Linked DNA regions of Homo sapiens: region 1 is linked to region 2. The links come from fine-mapping of genetic effects on gene expression. A gene starts in region 2. The other region holds a variant in brackets. All regions are shown on one strand. Distances are from middle to middle.

Region 1 (10,236 bases), 34 kb before region 2:
CCAACTGAGTCCTCTCTGTCTCCTGTGTGCTCCCTTCCTCACCTGAATAAATTCATGTCTCTCTGGAGTCTTGAAGGCCTGCTTAAGGATGCAGCCACCATTGCCAAATCTCAGCACCCCGCCGGTTCATCATTTAACCCTAAGCAGATGCTTGAGGGCAAGAGCATGACACCTTGGTTCCCATCTAAAACAGCTGCTCTGCGAGACAAAAGCTAATTCCACGCTGAGTGTAGTGTGAGATCAGCCTCTGTGCAAAGACCAAAGAAATACAAGCAGGCAGCTAGGTATATGGCAGGGCCAGCACTACCAACTAAAGGAGAAACAATGGGCTGAATGCCATATATGTAGCTACTTGAATTAAGCCAAGGTGAAAAACCTTCGGTGCATGACTATAAGAAAACTTTCATTCATTTGCACTAGGAGTTAGGCCCATCACCGGCAGGGAACCTTGGTGCCCAGAACACTGGGTGCCAGTCCCAGTCACTTCACGGTGACGTTCCCAGGGAGGCACATGGGAGAAAAATAGAGGCCGAGAGGGCATTCCTGGGGGAAGACTCTCCTCCCCATGGAGATGGGGTGGGTGCGGCTCCACCCGCCATGGTGGCCAAAAGCCTCCCATGGAGGGAGGAGGACTCCGGGCCACCTTGGGGCTAAAGAGCCTGCCAGGTGGGCAAGTTCTCCCCTCGCCTTTAGTTGGTGACAGAGCGCCGGTCTGTGGAGAAGACCCATTTGTCGACGAGGTGTGGATTCTTCCACGTGGAACAGCACCTGGGGACAGCACCTCAGAGTGAGACAAGACAGAGGGAGGACTCACTCAAACTTGATGTCACCCCCAAATTCAAGAAACAAACACAGGGCAGAGTTTGAATGATTCAGTCTGAGAATCAAAACAGCCTCTGAATGAACACATACTTCAAAAGGCACAAGGCAAAAAAAAAAAAAAAAGTCATTTAGGAGTGACCCTGTGTCATTGCTAAGTTGACAGACTTACAAATAAACATGGGCAAGGTGATCACCTTGTCTCCTTTTACAAGACAGACCTCACTCGGTAAAAATATACACTGACGTATTATGTGCACATCAACCTCAATAATAAAACATACACGCGCCATCACAGTCCTACACATAATTTATGGTATTCAGAACATCACTTTATAAACTGTTGCCAAATTACCACTTAAACACTAATATCCAAATACAGAATTTAGAAAATTATTTTAAATTTTAACTCTACCATCCCCCCGAGCTCTCGGCTATGAATTTAGTCTGGGAAGAGGGCTCCGTAATAGGCCACTGAGGTCCTCTGTCCCACCACATCATCCTCCCCCGAAAACTAGCTGCCCGACTGCTCTACCAGACTTGGGCTAGAATTTGGCTTCACGGTGGCAATGGGACCACCTGGGCCCTACAGTGTGGCAAAATCAACTTGCCCACAAACCCCATCCCAGGTGCTGGGATGCTAACACACTGAAGCTGAAAGACCACACTTGGTTTTGCCACAGATCAAGCTGCATCTGACTAGACAGCCTGTTCTCTACCCTATTTCCTGCAGAAGTCTTTTTCTTTGTAATGCAACAAGTGCTACACAGCTCAGATCCAACGGGACACGGGGAAAGAGGCTGTAGTGCACCTAGCCCTGCTGAGGGAGACCCTTGCCTTGCCAAAGCACTTTGCTCACAAAGGCAGTTTCAAAGAGTATAGCCCGAACTCATTCCTGGTAAAACAAAAGGAAAACATTTTTGATAAATGTACCCAAAAGTCTCAAAAGGGCTACGCTGGTCTTCTGAACGGAAACCAAATGAGGTCTCCCCAGGCTCATGTCATGAGTCTCAGGGAAGGTGTGTCCTAGACCGTGGCCTTGGGCCTGCCCAGGCCGAGGCTGCCGTCACTGCAGATCCTGCAGGTTGATAGTGCTTCCTGGGAACTGGGTGGCCTCCGGTCCAGCAGGGCCTCCAGATGAGGGGAGCACCTCCTGCAAAACCAAGCATTGTCATGAAGAGGGAGGAGGGAGGGGAGGCAGAGGGATCCTGTGGCTCCACACAGCAGGACACTGACCAGGCCCGTGGTGAGATACCTGACTTCTCTTACTCAAAACTACAGGCTCCCCTTATTCTAAACACATGTTCTTTGATGAAAAATGAACTCAATACTGTACTGTAAATTTTTCAAGATTGTTCTGTCTGCACATTGACGTATACCCTCACATGTTCATATACCCATATGCCTTTTTACAGAAACAAAATCATCTTTACTTCTGCAACCCTTTCTCCGCACTTCTCACGCGGTGAGCACTCTCCCAGGTATTAGGTGTCCGTCCGCCTGTGCCCTCACAGCTGACCAGGATGTGGCCCAGGGCTATGGAGGCCCCATCTAGCCTGTCTCCTCCTGCTACAAGAAGTGTTCCTGCTGTTGCACCATTTGACTCCGGGCTACGGTGATTATGTCACTACCTTATTTTTTCAGGAGCAGTCCCAGGAGGGGGCTGCCAGGCAGGATGGAGCAGACACTTCTGAAGTTCTCTGATCCATGCTGCCAAACCGCCCTCCAGCTCACCCCTCTGCAGCCTGGGTGCCCGGCCCTCTGCTCCCACCAGTGCTTCTGTCCAAGTTTGGTTTTGATTGCGAGGGAAATGCTGAATAGCCCAATTTGAATGCAAAAAAACTAAAACACAATTTGCATGGCTTATTGTAAATATATAAACACGTAAGGCAAACTGTTAGAAATGTGATAAGCTATACGCTTTCGCTATTTCATATCAAACTCTGAATCATTCACTGCCACCCATCCTTAGCTTAACCACGTAAGCAAACTACTGAATTCATCCGAGTCTATTCTCCCACAGGCTGGGCCCTGGCCAGCCCTCTTCCCAGAGAATTAACTGGAATTCCTAGGCACAACACTTTCAAGAGCATATTAACTTCTCCTGCTTTGTCTACCAGCAGGAGCTGCAGCGTCCTGCAGATCTGAGCTCCACTCACCCACCTTCTCCAGAAGGCAGCAAGACATCCTGGCAACCAACCCACTGAGCCTCCCAAGCCACGCGGCCTCAGTGACCAGCCTGCAGCTGTGAAGCCAGGCTTCTGGAAGTCGAAGGCTCTGCGAGTCTCAATAAGAAAAACAAAGGGCAGTAAGGCATCCAGACCTGGAGGACGTAGACGGGCAGGTCCACAGTGAGGAAGGGGAGGAAGGTGGCTGGGCCGCGGGCCGAGGGCAGGACACCTTCGCCGGAGGGGTCATCCTGGGAAGGCAACACAGAAAGGCCTGTCACATGTCTGTGAGAGTGCAGCAAAGGTCCTCGTCTCACCTGAGAAGTCTCCTCCAGCTGCAATGCGTGGCAGAACCAGCCCACCCCCTGTATTCCAAGGGAGGCCCGAGGACCCAGCAGGAATTGTTTATGGGGGCTGGGTACTACCTGTTCCCACCTGGTTCTCATTCTGTCACCTTGATCCCAGCAGCTTTTGCTGGGCCTGGAACCTTCTGCTCTCCAGCTCCTCCCCTCAGTCAGCCCAAATACTGATTTCCCTCCTAAGGCACGCTCCTCAACTCCTTGCAGGTGCCCTGGCACGCCCTGTACCCCCACCAACCTTGTGTACCCAGAGTGCTCTCCAGCAAATCCTCGGGCCCCACAGAGGGCCTTCCCTGCATGCCCCAGCTTGCCTACGGGCCAGCTGGAAGGACCAGGGCAGGTAGAGGGGCTCCTGAGAGGGGAGGCTGCCAGGCCCCTCACAGTCCAGGCTAGAAACTTCATCTGTCCCACACTTCGCCTGTCCTGCACCTGCATGTCCGCCCATGGCCATTCACACCCCGAAGCGGAGCTCCTGGTGCTGCTGCTCTGCACCTCTCATTCCTTCTGTTTGAGAAGCTCCTGTGTGTCAAGGTCTGCACTACTGTTCCCATTTCATAGATGACAAAACTGAGGCCCGGAGTGCTTAAGTAACCAAGACTACGCTAGCTGGTAAGGGACAGAAAAAGAACTCAAACCCAGGTTTAATCAGGCATCTCTTAAAAGTATACCCCCTACTTGCTCCTGTTCTGCCGGTGGCACCAGCTTCCCTACCGTCTCCCTATTGCCAAGCCTCTGGTCCTGACTCTGTACCTCTGCCCTGCCAGCTGAGGCAGTGTTTCCTTGGATGGTCCTCCCCCTCCCCCTGCCCCTGCTCCTGGGGAGTTCTTACCTCTTCAGAAGCTGGAAACAAAGGACCAGTGCTCCTGCCCCTCTCTAAGACAAGCTTCAGCCCCCATCTGACGCTCACCGCTAGCTTCCAACCAGCACAGGGCCACCCCCAGCTGCCCGCAGCCTCTTCCCTGCCCCCTTCCCAGCCCACCTCTGCCCAGGCTGCCCCTCCTCTTGCCTCTCTGAGCCCCAGGCCTGGTCCTGTTTCCTTGGCGAGACTCTCCCAGGACTCTGAACCCACAAACGTGCCTGTTTCCCAACTCAGAGCCAGCGTCACCTCCACCCTCCGCACTTCCGTGGGGCCTGCAACCGCATCCCCTGCCACAGGGAATCTACAAAGTGGAGTGGTGAAGAGGGGCACACACCTGGGCCAAACCCAGACAGCCCCGGCTTGTATATCTCTTCTCTCCCCAAATCCTTCCAAATCATCTTCCCTCCCCATTCCAGCCCCTCAAACTGAGACTGAAGATGCAGGTGTGCTCAGGGCTGCTGAAGCAGGTGTGCTCAAAGACCTCCTGGAAACTGGCCACAGCTGCAGGTATCTGTGGCCCGGACAGGCTGGGAGGGGCCTGGGCCTGCCCTGGAGGGGCTCTGTTTCGTAGGAAAGAAAATAGAAAAACACTGAAAAGACCCCCACCACCTTCAGCATAGAAAGGCTGCTAGTGCGCCACAAGCAGGCCGCCCTAGAAATGGGGTGGCTGAGACGGCCTGCGGAGCCCTTTTGCCCCAGCCCTGCAGAAGAAGGGCAGGGTGGCCTCAAACAGATCTCATCCTGCTGCAAAACAGCCCTGGGGGCCTCGGGCAGGGAGGCGGGCTACTCTGGGGCTAGACGCAGGGCTGTGCACAGACAGGTTCAGGAAGTGGATGCACGGTCCCAGCAACACTCAGAGCTTGAGCAGATGCAGGACAGGCTGGGAAAAAGGGAGGAGCTGGGCTGTGAGGAGACAGGACTTGGGGCAGTCTACAGGGGAGGATGCACGAGGGGCAGGCAGGCAGGGGGTGCTGCGATGGGCAGGGGATGCAGCATGCCGCACACTGCTCAGACCTGCGTGACCCTCCCACCCCGCCTACAGCTGGCCTGTGTGACTGGCCAG[C/T]TCTCACCTGCACCAGCTGGACCTGGACGCCCTGCGCCCCGCACTGCACCCCAGCTGCTGGAGCTGGTCCTGGCCGTCCTCCGCTGGGCACCACGAGGCTCCCACACAACCAACTGTTCTGGCTTGCATGGAAATGGGGAGGACTCATTTTGCCTTCTTTTATTTTTCTCTGAGTAGACTGTGAGGCTCCTAAAATGAAATATAAAAACGAGCACACCCAATCTACAATCTACCAGTCAGGTCTGCCCTTACCAAGGTCTCACTATGGGGAAGACAGCCTTCCCATTAATTGTCATTCTGCACAGCTAAGAGACGTAAAATCACTTAACAGAAAAAATCAAGAGTTAAGAGGTTGAAACAAACAACCATACGAACAAAAAAACATCAGGATTTTGATTTTAAAAATGTAAAAACATCATACGTATTTTTTTGCCAGACGGTACGGTAATCAGACACAAGCTGCAAATTCTTGGAGAGCAGAATCCTCTAACTCCAGCAGCTGCTGGCTGGCAGGAATCCCAAGCGCAACTGAGGACAGCCAACAGCCCAGAGCCACAGCATCATGGAATAGGAAGGAAGCGGGCGGTCTCCATACCCCACCTGTGGGTGGACTGCTGCCTCTGTCCAGCTCCTTTCCAAGTCACTACTCCATGGGTTTTACAAATATGTGCTTCTTAAGAAATGAAGTAAAGCACAAAGAAAAAAGAAAAAATCTTAACACCCATAACAAACCCAAGAGCTGCTTCAAAAGGGCCCAAAGGTAGCCTAGAGCGTGCACTGCAGAGACCCCGGCTAGGCTCACCCTGACCCGCCACCCACTCTGCTCCAGGGATCTGGAAAAGGAACTCAAGCTCTGGGCCTCAGCATTATCTACCTGTAAAATGGGAATGCTAGTCCCAACCTCGGAAGGTTTTGGAGAGGATTTCATAGGAAATATGTGATCAAAACTTAGAACAGTGACTGGCGAGTGCCAAGGAGTTTAGGCACTGTCACTGCTCTGCCCACACATCCCTGCCTGGATGTGTGGGATCCAGCTATGAACGGCTTCAAAAAAACAACTGTACAATGACTATCATATAAGTTATTCCTAATAAAAGTATTCAATTGGGTGACCCTGCTGCCCAAGGCAGGCTGTTTTTACGAGGCTGTTTGACAGGAAGGTTCTGAGCAGCCCATGGGGTGAGAGCTGACTTGCCCTGCATATGCTGTCTCCCTGACCTGCTCACCTCACTCCAGATCCCTTCCTGTCTTCCGCAGTGCCCTGGGTCCCGGAGAGCTTCACACTCAGCAGGCAAGCCAACTGGGTGCACAAACCTTGGGTCCTCTGTACTTAGGCACAGCCTGCTGTCTTTTCTGGGTGCCTCAGGGCTCTTTTTCTTTGAAGTGCAAATGCTAACCAGGAGGTTTCTGGGTAACACAGATTCAGTTCCCCCTCACTGCAGGGAGATGCACTTCCATTACAAAATACTTCCTTTCTGTTCATCCATCAGTGTTCCAGAAAACCCAGCAACCCTCGCTCTGGATCATCTCTGACTGTTCTCCACGCCTGGTTTCTCTTTTTCTAATTGCTCTACTTGCTTCAGACAGAAGAGCAGGGCTGGGTCTGGGGCAAGAGAGGTGCCTGGGGCACAAAACTTACTCACCCCTCCTTGAGGAAACTTCACATCAGTTCCTAGTACTGCAGTCTATTAAGTCTGCAATAACATTATGTCTAAAACAATGCATACCTTAATTTAAAAATACTTTATTGCTAACAAATACCGACATAGACATGAAGTGAGAACATGCTGTTGGAAAAATGGTGCCAACAGACTTGCTGGATACAGGTTTGCCACAAACCTTCAATTTGTAAAAAGCAAAAAAAAAGTCAACTGCAAAAAATGAAGCGTGCCTATATCCTCCGTGAGCTTGTATACTATCCCACTTACCTCCAGAATTTTACCTGAATGCATTTCTATGCTTTCAAGTCTTTTATCACCCTAGCATATAAAAATATGTACATAAACTTAACTTTTATTTAACTTCTAGGCATTAACATTTTTGGTTTGAACTGTTACAACTGCAATTATTAGTAATGCAAAACAAATCAAAACAAAATATATCAGAAACTTTGATAGATAATTATGATATTAAAAGCAAAATTATATTAAAAATGCTTTTCAAGAGGAGTGGGACTGACTGGTGGTTTTCTTCCCCAGTTAGTTCATGTATTTGTGTCTAAATATTACTTCTTGCTAGAATTAGACATGGTCAGCATCTATTCTTGTCAATTAAAAACTTTTTTAAAATAAGATGCTCATGTGTCATCACAACTTTGCAGCTGCAGGTTGAGTTTATTCAAGTGAGGGGGAACTGCCTGCCCACGAAGCCCCAGCAGCAGGGCCGGTGCTGCAGCCAGAACAGTCGCATTACGCTTGCTTTCTAATAAAAGGCCTGGCTTCATTTTTAAATTCAAATAAAAATACTGAAACATGTTATTATATTAGAAATATTGGCCGGGCGCAGTGGCTCACGCCTGTAATCCCAGCGCTTTGGGAGGCCAAGGCGGGCAGATTACAAGGTCAGGAGATCGAGACCATCCTGGCTAACACGGTGAAACCTCGTCTCTACTAAAAATACAAAAAATTAGCCAGTGGTGGTGGCGGGTGCCTGTAGTCCCAGCTACTCGGGAGGCTGAGGCAGGAGAATGGCATGAACCCAGGAGGCAGAGCTTGCAGTGAGCCGAGATCATGCCACTGCACTCCAGCCTGGGTGACAGAGCGAGACTCCCTCTCAAAAAAAAAAAATAATAATAATATGAAAACCACTGTAGAATAAATTAAGGCAGGCAGTGAATAGTGTATCTCTCCAGATTTCTTTTAAAAGCAGGCAAGATTTTAAATGATGTATATCAAGTATTTATTATCAAGTTTTATAACATAAACAAGATAAAACTGAGCCATTCATCATGATTCAATGCCAAATGTGTACGCCACGCTCTAAGTTACCTACAAAGCAAGAAATATGACTGAATCCTAATATTCCTTTGCAAAATGTGTGCTAGAATGTATGTGCCATTCGAATCATGGGAAAATCAGAATTGGGTGCAAAATCAGAAATAATTCCACTAATGTTGCTAGACATGGTTACACTTTCCTTTTATACCTAAACCAGTAACTAAAATGATTCTATCTTTATTAACAATTTACTTGTATTACTTTTACAACAGGAAAAAAGATAGGCTGTAACGAGAATATCTCATGACAAGCTAAATTGGTTTCAACTTCTGTATCAGCATACAATATGAAAAAAAATCACAGGAATTTCTTTTCAATCCGCACATTTAATTCAGTGTCTCAGGTAGTCCTGTAGACACCAGTTACACTGAGAAGAAACACCACCACTAATTTGCATCAGAAGGTATTTTTCTTCCCAGCTAACAACTCGTCTAGGGATAAAAAGTCAATAGCTGAAAAGAATTGCTCACGCTTATACATACATAGGGCTCATTCCTGAAAAGTAATACATTCTTTGACAACAGCAGAGGGCTGGCAAAGGTGAGGACTTTCTACGAGAGATGTCCATCCATGCCCCACATCCCCTCTCTGATGTACCTCAAGCAGAACATCTCAGCGTCCACCCCTAGACACATCTCTGCACAGGAAGGGTAAGCTGGCAAGCCCGGCTCATTAAAGTTTTAATGTCGGTATTATTCTACAGGATGCTTCCCTGAAACCAGTATTTGGAACTGCCCCTGGGTTTGGTGCTCTGGAAGGATATCCTGTTTTTGTGTGCACTCCAAGGCAACACACTGCAGTAGAAGTCTGGTGGAGAGTTGCAGCCTCCCCGTTTTTTGGCAAGCAGAAGGACAGCTGTGGGTGAGGGGGAGAACCTGCCACAGATGAGCTCGGACACCCCTTCTCAGAGAGTCCGTTCCAGCAAGGACTGCACCTGGAAGATGAACCTGGAAAGGATGCAGGGGTCCAGGCCAACAGCTGTGAGAGAACAGGGCAGCCAGGGGAGGAGGGGCCAAGCCCCAGTTGCTGAGTTGTCCCCCAGGCCTGAGCAGGGTGTTCTGTCCTAGAATCCCTGACGGTACACCCTGAAGTCTGGTGGTATGTCGTGAACATTTAAGATGGCTGAAAGTTAATCATAAACTTCCTGGGTTAACTAAGCAAGTATGTTTATCTAGGGATGCTTAAGGACATGCCAAAGCAAACAAATGGGGTCCACACCACGTCCTCACGATAACCATGAAGCCCTGGGTCCTCACTAGTAAAGGGCGCCATGGCATCAAATGCAATATGATCAATTTAATTAATAAAGCAGTCACAAGAAAAATCAAATTCCTCTCTCACAATGGACAACCACAAACCCTTATAGAACAAGGTAACAACACCGAACTACATTTTGCTTCAATATTTTCAATCATTATCCAAAATGCTTGCTTGTGCTGGAGAATCTGCAGGAGTGGGGAGAGGAGCAGTATAAATCCAACACCAAGCAACCTCCTGGGAAGCAAGGAAGGACTCCTTAAGGAAGAGTCCTATCTAGGTATGATGGTAAATAGCAAAGTGGTCAAGGGCCCCGGCTTGGGAGCTGGACGATCCAGCTATGTGACTCAGCTCCCATCATCTGCGGTGAATGGAGATGGCCACACTGCTTTCACCTCACCGTGCCATGACGAGAATTAGGTGAGGTCAACAGCACTGGGCCTGGCTCAAACAGCATGCCATCCCCACACCAGTAGCACCGCAGTGCCTGCCACAGGACAGAGTTCAGAGCCAGCCAGGTGCCCCGAGAAAGGATCTGCACAGATGAGGCTCAGGCCCCTCCCTTGATAACCACAGGGGGTCATGCGAGCTTCCTCTACTGAGATCCTCACTTGAACAGGAGGTAAGTGACTATTTTCCCAATTCTCCCAAGGGTGGAAGATCAGAGGTCACTGGGGCTTAACTCACTAGGTCCCTGACATGGTTAGTTCAACAC
Region 2 (10,236 bases):
TAATGAGGATCAGGGCCATGAGTCAAACTGCGTCTGATTCTCAAGTCACTGCTCCCAAAATAGTACAATTAACTCAATGAGGTAAGTAAACATAATGCTGCAACTTATATTGAGTCAGTCTTTAAGCAGCTAACATTTACCTTTAAACAACGGAAACTTAACAGGATAAATGTTGGCATTGCACTTAGTTTACTGCTCAAAGCAATGTTTTAAAATCTACCTTCCACAGGACACTCGAACGGCTTTGTGCCTAGGTGGGTTATGCTGTGGCCTTTCAGATGCTCTGCTCTGGTGAATGATTTCCCACAGCCCTCGACAGGGCAGGTAAACCTCCGGTCATCGTCATGTTTCCTGCCAGACAGAAAAATAAAGGAGCTGTGATTCCTCACACAACTCACCATAATTCTTTAAAATTCTACAAAACATACCAAAACACAAACTTTGCATTTACAAAAATGATCAGTACATTTCGGAAAATCTTAATTCTGTCTTTAATCCATGTGAGCAGATTTGCAATTTAGCTACCCCATAAAAATTCTACTTTAATGACTAAGCTGACCCCAGAGTCACACATCAAACAATTAATGCTACTTCAATCTAATATAAGCTAATCTAAGAACAGTGGAGTCCCAAATGTATTGATGAAGGTGTTTCTATTGTTTAGAAACCCCAATGATCAACAAGCTTTCCGAGCGACAGACGGTCGTGAGAAATGTGCACAGAGCATCAGCTGCAATGCCAAAAGGACTCTCTTAAGCCAACTTGTAAAGACTGTGTCTTTTCCTAAGTGACATTTTTATATTAAATCCTCAGAGCCCAGCTGTGCAAGTACAGAAAAACCACTGAATCTCTCCGAGTCTCACTGTAAAACAGGGAGAATAAGAACATTAGCTTTGAGGTTGTTGGGAAGGTAGAAGACACACATGTAAAGTGCTGAGTGTCACCTGGACACAGTCTCCAGGGTTGTCATTACCACCATGAAAACTTGTAATTACATGAAGAAAGCTTATTCTACAATGTTAAGTTAAAAAAAAAACCTGGAATTGTTTTTTTTTTAAGAACAGAGTATGCCAATTTAGCTTTTTTTAAAAAAAGTATACACAGAAAAAACTGACTTCAGGTGATGAGATTCTGAGCAATTTTCTTTTTACAGTTTTCTGAATTTTCCAAATCATCAACACTGAGCTCCTTTTTTAACAACTTAAAAAATGTCTACAGATATTTCATTCATTGGTTTCTGCTGCTGACAAACCACTCATTTTCAAACCTGATAATGCAAACCAAAATGTAAGGATTACCTTCTGTGCCTTAGAAGTTTGGACATGCTGGTGAAGGTCCAGCCACAGCTGTCAGAGTCACAAATAAATGGTCTTTCACCTTATAAAAGAAAAAATTATACAGCATAAAATTTACAACTCCAACAGCTACGATGAAGACAAATCTTGGGTCCAAATGCTGTGCGTTCCCTAGCTCATTACCTGTATGGCTCCGCAGGTGAATTTTCAGCCGACAGGCTTTATCATACTGCTTGCTGCACCCAGGAAAGGAGCAGGAAAAGAGCTCTTGTTCCCTGAAGTGGGCTCGGTTATGGGAAAACAGGGCACTCACTGTGATAAATGTCTTCTCACAGCCTGAACAAGGAAAACACAAACCCTGCTCAAAGCGTGGCAAAAATTATACAACATAGCTAATGCTAGTCACACCCACCAGACCCTGTTCACACTGAAGCAGACAAGGGAAAACATGACTCAGAAGCACTCTCTAAAAAGGGAAGACCATTAATGCTTGGCTTTGTGATCACCACAGGAAGGCAGCTAATGGCAGCCAATAGGCACACGCTGGCCACCTGTTGCAACATGACTTGGAGATGGAGCAACCGATAAAGAGAAAGTCCTCCGTTCACAGCCATCTACTGGCCGGCTCCGGAGCACTGATCCTGCACACACACTGAGACCCAAGAACCCCATGAGAGAAATCAAATACTAAGGAACAAGATTTTGTCTGGTAGGGTTGATCTTTGAAAGGCTACAAATCATCCTACTAGCCAGGATTTTTCACCCCTTGGGGGTGATGCTGCATCCTCTACATATCCAAATTTCCTCCCTGACACCCTCCAACTGCCAGCCCTGTCCCTTGCTGTTTGGATTCTTTTTCCTTTCGCAATTTCCTTAGGTTCCCTGCTTTGTAATCTTCACCTCAATCCTAACCCCTGGCCAAAGCAGCTAAGCCTCAACAATTCCACAGCAATACTTCTCCTCCGACAGAAACATTCAGGGCTCCAACAGGGTGGAAAACATGAGGCTGCAGGATGTTTAACAGGAGTCTTTGCTGCAGCTCCTCTTGGAGCCTTTAACGAGATACTATCATGCCTATGAACTGCCACACAGATGTACATGGCATAGCACTGCCCAAAAGTATCAGCCCAAGGAACCCTACTTTCCCCAGCAACATCTAACTCAGAAATGCTGATCTTTGGCCTCAATCTGGTCCCAAAATACCTCCAGGGTATTTTGGGCTTCGGTGTGTTCACACACTTGGTCATGTAAATCTGAACACAGACTCTCTCTGCCTTGGCAAGAACCCCCCACACCCCCATAGATAATTACACCCTTTGGTTCTCCCTCTGCAATCTCACCTGCTAGAGACCCTCATCATTCCCACTCCCTGGCTCAGGCCTTCAGAAAACTCAGGTCTGGGCCCTTTGATGATGCTTCCCTGGTCCTGCTCCTGCTTCTAAACATCTAATCTCATCTAACCATCTAATCTCATCTCAACACAAGAAGCCTCATGGATCAGCCAACACAAAACCCTCAAGAGACCTCATGCCTGGAAGCAGGCGGGATCCCTGACCTTCCCAGTGTCATACACAGAATGATACTCTTTTAGCAGGGAAAGGGTCTACAGCCACCATCAGATTCCCAAGAGTGTATGACTGAAAAAGACTTTGAGCTAGTGGCCTCAAGCCACATTCTCTCTGAAGAGGAATGCGCAAGACAGTCCACAGGCATATGCGAGGGAAAAAATAATAAAACCCGTTCATAATTCTCATCTCATCCTTTAAAAATTCTTGTTTAAGGACATTATAAGGAGAGCCGTGTGCATATACAGGTTAGGGGCATGCTAGGCACACATTCCAGTTTCTGTTTGAATGACTGGTCCTTCCTCCTGGGCCCTCACCACAGACCACAATCCCCACCTGGGCTCTGCCACCCAGCCGACTCCATTCTTCTGCCTTTCCAGGGAGGAATCCTTTCTTGCCCTTCTGGAGGAACCCTATCCCTGTGAAAGCAGGGAAAGCTGCCCATCCTGGTGAAGAGCTCACTGTGTTGGAGTCCTACATTCCCAACAACTGCAGGTCAACACACAGGAGAAAGAACAGGCAGTGGACTTTTTTTTTTTTTTTTTTTTGAGACGGTGTCTCGCTCTGTCGCCCCGGCTGGAATGCAGTGGCGCGATCTCGGCTCACTGCAAGCTCCGTCTCTGGGGTTCACACCATTCTCCTGCCTCAGCCTCCCGAGTAGCTGGGACTACAGGCGCCCGCTACCACGCCCGGCTAATTTTTTGTAGTTTTAATAGAGACGGGGTTTCACCGTGTTAGCCAGGATGGTCTCGATCTCCTGACCTCGTAATCCGCCCGCCTCGGCCTCCCAAAGTGCTGGGATTACAGGCGTGAGCCACCGCGCCCAGCCACCAGCAGTGGACTTTATCCACAAGGCTCGGCCTCTGTCTCTTCATCTGTAAAAGAGGACAGTTTTTAACCTTCACAGACGGCTAATTTTTAAAACTTCACAAAACTGTGAGGTTCAACGGAAATCAAAGTGCAAAAGGCAAAAAAAGCCAGGATGTGCGCACACCTGTGGCTATCCTCCCAGCGTGTTAAGGTCCTGAATCTGGCCACATTCATCTCTGCTCCTCTAGCACGGAGTGTGCACCCCGTAAACAAATGACGAGACTGAGGAAAATAAAGACCTGACACATAGCTCCGTGCCACTCTGTGAAGATGCGTGCCGCTTTCATCAAGCACAAGCAGGTTAAGGATATCTGTTGCCGCCACCTTTGGGAAGCGCAGCTGTGGTGATCTGCGCTACCTGCCATCGGAATCCCTGCGGCAGGGCAGGGCCAAGATCTCAAATCGAATGACATGGAAGGAGCTAGAATACAAATCCCGAAGAGCCTGCGTCCCCGGCTTGCTAAGGTCTGGCAGGCCCCTCTGTGGGGCGGACGTGGCACCCCAGACCTGCCTGCAACACCGCGCAGCCCGCCCGCCCCCGAGAGCGCGGTTACCGGGAAAGTCACACTTGTAAGGGCGCTCGGGCTCGAAGTGGCTGCGCTGGTGGGAGCTGAGCTTGGCGTGCGTGGGGAAGCGCTCGGCGCACACCTCGCACTTGAACAGGCTCTCCTGCTCGTGGCCCTTCATGTGCGCCTTGAGGTTATAGACCGTAGTGAACTTCTTGCCACAGCCGCCCACTGGACAGCCGAAGGGCCGCAGCTTGTCGTGCGACTGCAGGTGCCGCTTGAGCTTGTAGGACGTTGTGAAGGCCCAACCACAGCCCTCCAGTGGGCACTTGAAGGGCCGCCGGCCCTGACCGCCGCCGTGCGTGAGCAGGTGCACCTTGAGCTGGTGCTTCTTGGCGAAGGCCAGCGCGCACTGCGGCTCGGGGCAGCGGTAGCCGGGCGTGCTGGGGCCGGAGGCCTGGGGCGCGCGGCGGGGAGCGGCGGCGCCCGCGGTTGCGGGGCCGGGCGGCGCAGACAGCGCGAGGACGCCGCGGTCGAGACGCACCAGCAGGTCCTGGCTGCTGATGGTGACGGCGCCCGCCGGGGCTACGCCAGGGCCGGGGGGGGCGGCCGGGCCGCTGGGGCCCTGCTCGGGGCGGCTCGCCAGGTTGACACGGGAGCCAGGCTCGGCCTCCTGTGATCCGGCAGCCTCGGCGGCAGCGCCGCCGTGCGGCACTTCCAGCAGCACCAAGAAAGAGTCGCCGTCGCTGTCGTCCTCGGCGGGCGGCGGGCTTGGCCCGGAGGCCTCCCCGGGCCGCGCCCCGGGCCCGCCATCTTCAGGGCCCCGCACCAGTAGCAGGCGGCGGCGCGCGGGGCTCGCGCCGAGCGGCGCTGGGGCTCGGCGGAGCGGGCCGGGGCCGCCGCCATGTTGCCCTCCGCGCGCAGTCGGGGCGGGGAGCAGCGCCGGGAGGTCCATCTTGGTCCCAGCGACGGCGTCGGAGCAGCTTCGGACGCAGAGCTGCCCGCGCCCCGCCCAGGTGTGCGTGCGCCGCCCCGGGACGCGATCCGCGCCAAGCCCCGGCGTAGAGTCCGGCTCGGAACCGCGCGTGCGCGGACGCCGCCGGGCGATGCGCGAGGCCTGCTGGGCTGACGTGACGTGAGGCTGGGCTGCGGGGCGCCGGAGGCGGAGGCGGGGGCGGGGCGCCGGGACCGACTAGGGCGGGGCGCGGGGTCGGGGGGCGGGGCGCGGGGTCGGGGGGCGGGGCGCGGGGTCGGGGGGCGGGGCGCGGGGTCGGGGGGCGGGGCGCGGGGTCGGGGGGCGGGGCGCGGGGTCGGGGGGCGGAGCGCCGGCACCTACGAGGGCGAGCGGCGGGGCACGGGACCGACAGGGGACGGGGTGAGGCTCCCAACGCTGAGCGATTCCTTCTCGTTCCCGCTGGCGTGGAAGACGAGGCTTGTCTTGACTTCGAATCGTATTAATATTTCAGACACTTAACAGGCAACCTCTCGTAGGCATTGACTGCGTCCCAGGGGCTGTACCTGTCCGAGCTGATTAAGCGTGCGCGGTCACCCAGGGGTGAGGAAACAGGGACGGCGAGCTCGAGTCACTCGGCAGCCGGCAGATCCAGGATTCGAACCTGTCCAACAGGCCGGACGCCTACCCCCAGCTCACTTAAGTGCAAGCTCGCCTGCCGCCGCTGGCGCACAGACCTCGTTTGCTTTGGCCCAGGTCCTTGCTCGGCACACGGGGCCTCCCTGATACGCAGGACCCCTGCCTGTATTTCCAACTGTATTTCCTACTAAACTTGGCACAACCTCACTCTGCAACAGCTTAATTACTTACTGTTTCCGGTCCTCACCCTCCCCCACCTCACCGTACACCTCCGCATTCAATCTGGACTCCTCCACTTCAACTTCACCACCACTCAGATCCAAACCCGCACTTTATTCCTGGGTACCTGAAAAATAACTACTAGCTGGTCATCGGTCTCCCTCCGCTCCACTCGCTCCCATCCACGGGGCACCGTTTTATGATCTAAAAATTGCACATCAAATTATGCTCACCTCCACCTTGCTCCCGAAGGCGCCTATGGCCTTGCTAGTCTACCCTCCCCTACCTGTTTGCCCTCACTTCCCGCCACTCTCCCGCTGCCCCCCCCACCCCTCCCCCGCACCCCACCTCTTTTTCCCAGTTCATCCAGCAAGCCAAGCTGGTTCCAGCCTCAGAGACTTGGCGCAGCTGATCTCTGATTCCTCTGGGAGGACTCTGCGCCCCTTCTGATCCAAAGCACATGCTTACCCAGTCCCGTATTCCCACCTCTGTCTGATCTGTTTGCTCTTAGAGCTCTCATCACCCGTTGTTTTGTTGAGTTCCTTCCCTGCTCCTTCACTGTCTCTCCCTCTCTGGAATGTAGGCTCCTGGAGCCCAGGAACTGTGTCCTATTCACTGTGTGTGCCCAGGAAGACTCTTGGTGCATATTTGTTAAATACATGAATGCTTTATTATTAAGAGTATTTTTTTAAGTAACACAAATTATAATATTAAAAAGAATAGGATACATCTATTATATATATCAGTTTATGCCGAAAACATATTGTTCCTAGACCATTCAGTAGAGGAAAGAATAGTCATTTCAATAATGGCGGCACTGGGACAACTGGATCTCCACATGCAAAAGAACCAATTTGGACGTGTATCTCTCATCAGAGGCAAAAATTAACTCAAATTAGAGCAAAAGCCTACACGTAAGACATAAAACTATTTGAAGAAAAGTAGGTGTAAATCTATGTGACCCTGGATTAGGGAATAGTTTCTTAGATATAATATTGAAAGCACAAGAAAGAAAAATAGATAACTTGGACTTCATCAAAATTAAAAACTTACTCAGGTAAAAGGACACCAATAAGACAGTGAAAAGACAACTCAGAATGGGAGAAGGGTGTGCAAATCGAATATCTGATAAGGATCTACTATCTGGAATATATAAAGAACTCTTAGCAAGAAGACAAACAGTCCACTTTTTTAAAAGGCAAAGGTTTGAATAGACATATTTCTCCAAAGAAGATAATACAAACAGCCAATAAGCAAATAAAAAGAGGCTCAACATCACGAATCATTAGGGAAATGCAAATCAAAACACAGTGAGATACAACTTCACACCTACTCAAATAGTGGTAATTTTTTTAAAAACAGGATATAGAAAAATTGGAACTCTCACATATGGCTGGTGGGAATGTATAACGTTGCGGTGTGGAAAACAGTTTGGCAGTTCTGCAGAAAGCTAAACATAATCTCCACATGACCCAGCAAGTCCATCCCTGTGTTGCTGAGGCTGGAGTGTGGTGGCTATTCACAGGTGCAATCATAGTGCGACCTCCAACTGGCCTCAAGCAGTCCTTCCGGGTCAGCCTCCCAATTAACTGGACTACAGGCATATGCCACCATGCCCAACTTGTTGCGCAGCATTGATTATGCCACATTCTCGTGATCAAAGAAGTCATAAGACACTGCAGACCCAGGCAAGGGGAACTTGTACTCCACCTCTCAATGGGAGGTGCTGGAAAGAATTTGCAGCCATTTTTAAACTATCACAACTTCTCTGTGCCTCAGTTTCCTCATGTGTAAAATGAAGGGGACTGAGAAAGAAAAAGGGCAGCCCCTGCCATCCAGAAACTGGCCGGGTGCTACAGCTGGGCCACTCTGTTCTGTAAGACTTGAACCATCACGCAGAAAACCAACCTAGGCCAAGGTCACTGAAACACAATGACATGAGACAAAGCAAGGCCACTTCATGATGTGTCTCCACCCAGATAAAGCGAGGTCACTTGCTGTGCCATTTACAAGATACCCAGCAGCCCCTCTCTCAGCTAACGTGAGCAGCCGCCGCTTTTGTACCCCTGACAGCCTGTCTGTCTGTGTGCTTCCCTCTCTGTATATAGGATTTAGTCAGAAACCTAGTCATGGTGTTGACCCGATTTCTGGTAAGAGCCAATCCAGAGCAAATCCCCGCTTCCTAAGACTCCCCCACCCAACCAAAGCTCAAATCTGATACTAGGTTGTTTCAGATACTAGGTTGTTTCAGCCTTCTGCTGAGATACCCTGAAAGGAGCAACAGGACTCCTGGCGAGGGTCAGACGCGCCACTTCACCAGGTGGGCTTGAGTCAGCTCAATGTGGTCATCCAGTGGGGCTCAGGCAGAGACTTGAACTTGGTAGTCTCAAAGGAGTGCCCCAAATTACAAGGACCACAGAGATTGTGCCTTGGCCAGCCAGACCTGTACTCTCCAGGCTGTGTGGAAAGGATTTTGGAGAAGCCAGGGGAAGGGACGCAGATGACACACGCATGCACGCTCAGATTTATTTGTGTCTGGGGAGAAATCCCATCAGCCCAGGTATCGCTGGATGTCCAGCACCTCTTTTGGGCTAAAAGGCATCATGTGGATCTTGAGATTGCTAACAGAGAAGTGTCCAGGATTCCCAAATTTTGATGGGAGTGGGGATGAGGTTCACTGGGAGCAAAAGAGCATCTCTTTGTCAAAGGTCACAAGTTCAAATCCCAGCAGAGGTCATACAAGTCACACAAATGTGGGAGACAGGTGGGCACAGGAAACATAGACTCTCATGCCAAGGGACAAACAGCATACACGCTCCGCCTCACCATGGGTTCTGTAGGGACTGGAAGGGACTGTGGCCAAGTGCAGAGAGCTAGGCCAGCCCAGAGGGGCCCCCAGCAAATCACTGCCACAGAGGTGGTGAGAACATGGTGTTACCTTATATCTTGATTTTCAAAAAATAAGCTCTGGATTTCTCCCAATTTGTAAACATTGGTGACAAAGTCAAATTTTTTTAAAAACAGGACAGACCAAACAAAACACAACTGCAGGCTGAGTGTAGTGCTGTGCTCCTGTGGTCCCAGCTACTTGGGAGGCTAAGGCAGGAGGATCACTTCAGCCCAGGAGTTCAAGGCTACAGTGAGCCATGATTGCACCACTGCACTCCAGCCTGAGTGACAGAGCAAGATCCTATTTCTAAAAAATATATAAATAAAACATAACTGCAGGTCATGCCCGGCCCACAGGCCCCTGTGTGGTTGTCTACTCTGGGAAAACTGGAATGGGAGAGTGCATCACTCAGCCAGGCCCTCCCTCCCTGACCTTGGCTTGCCAGCAAGGAAAGCATACAGTTCCCAGGGACCCTGGGTTTGCAGAGAGCAGGCGCTGCCCAGGGGGAGGACCCTAATGCTGTACTGCAGGGCCTGAGCCTTTCTCACCTCCAACTCTTAAGGCAACTGAACCCTACACTCATCATGGCCAACTGGTTTCTCTTTTAATCATTTTGATGAAAACATTTCTAACTGGACTATACATCCTTGCCTTCTGAAAAAGAAGATGGCACTGGGCACATCAGAAGCCACGCTGTTCCTTCCATGGCGACTACAGCTGTGACCAGCTGCCCCAATTCCGCTGTGAGCCCCGTGGGAGTCAGCTGTCACTTACCACTGCAGCAGCAGACAGCAGGTTGGCATGCAGGGGCCAGGGAAGTAGCTTGCTCCCTGGCATGGCTTGGTATGGAGCCCAGAGGGGGTCTGGGGTCTGTGTGCAGCTGGAAGCCACCAGAGCCCTCCCTGTCCTTCAAGAGGGAAGGTGCTGGATGGGGAAAGGGTGATGCCAGGGCCCTGTGGCCCGCTCTTAAGATGTGTGCACAGATCCATGCAGCAGGGTGCTTTCATGGAGATGTGGGGACAGACGATTCGTCCCTACACACTCTGTCCTGTCTCTCTCACTATCTCTGTCTTTCTCTCTTTCTCTGTCTCTTACTCTCTCTATCTCTCTCTTTCTCTGTCTCTTCCTCTCTGTATCTCTTTCTTTCTCTGTCTCTTCCTCTCTCTCTGTCTCTCTCTGTGACTCTCTGTCTGTCTCTGCCCCTCTCTGTAACACTCTCCCCTCTCTGTCTCTGTCCTTCTGTCTCTGCCCCTCTCTGTAACACTCTCCCCTCTCTGTCTCTGTCTTTCTGTCTCTGCCC

What was found. PIP is the estimated chance that this variant, and not a neighbour inherited with it, causes the effect.
Region 1: its variant is fine-mapped to the expression of ZXDC in whole blood (INTERVAL, PIP above 0.99). The same link has a PIP of 0.9 or more in nucleus accumbens, subcutaneous fat, sun-exposed skin, thyroid and tibial nerve.

The regions. Positions count from the first base shown.
Region 1 is chr3:126,436,490-126,446,725 of GRCh38, forward strand. It overlaps ZXDC (ZXD family zinc finger C), which reads right to left. Exons shown (of 10, transcript NM_025112.5): 8 at 5,276-5,457; 9 at 3,143-3,238; 10 at 1,112-1,972. The coding sequence ends at 1,886. It overlaps CFAP100 (cilia and flagella associated protein 100), which reads left to right. Exons shown (of 17, transcript NM_182628.3): 17 at 1-67. Among named protein-coding and RNA genes, the nearest start is that of ZXDC, 34 kb to the right of the region's middle. RefSeq lists an enhancer at 4,754-5,389. The variant C/T (reference allele first, on the strand shown) is at 5,269.
Region 2 is chr3:126,470,675-126,480,910 of GRCh38, forward strand. ZXDC (ZXD family zinc finger C) reads right to left here and starts at 5,217. Exons shown (of 10, transcript NM_025112.5): 1 at 4,285-5,217; 2 at 1,479-1,631; 3 at 1,299-1,377; 4 at 221-351. The coding sequence starts at 5,191. RefSeq lists an enhancer at 3,564-4,089 and silencers at 4,647-4,906, 4,977-5,486.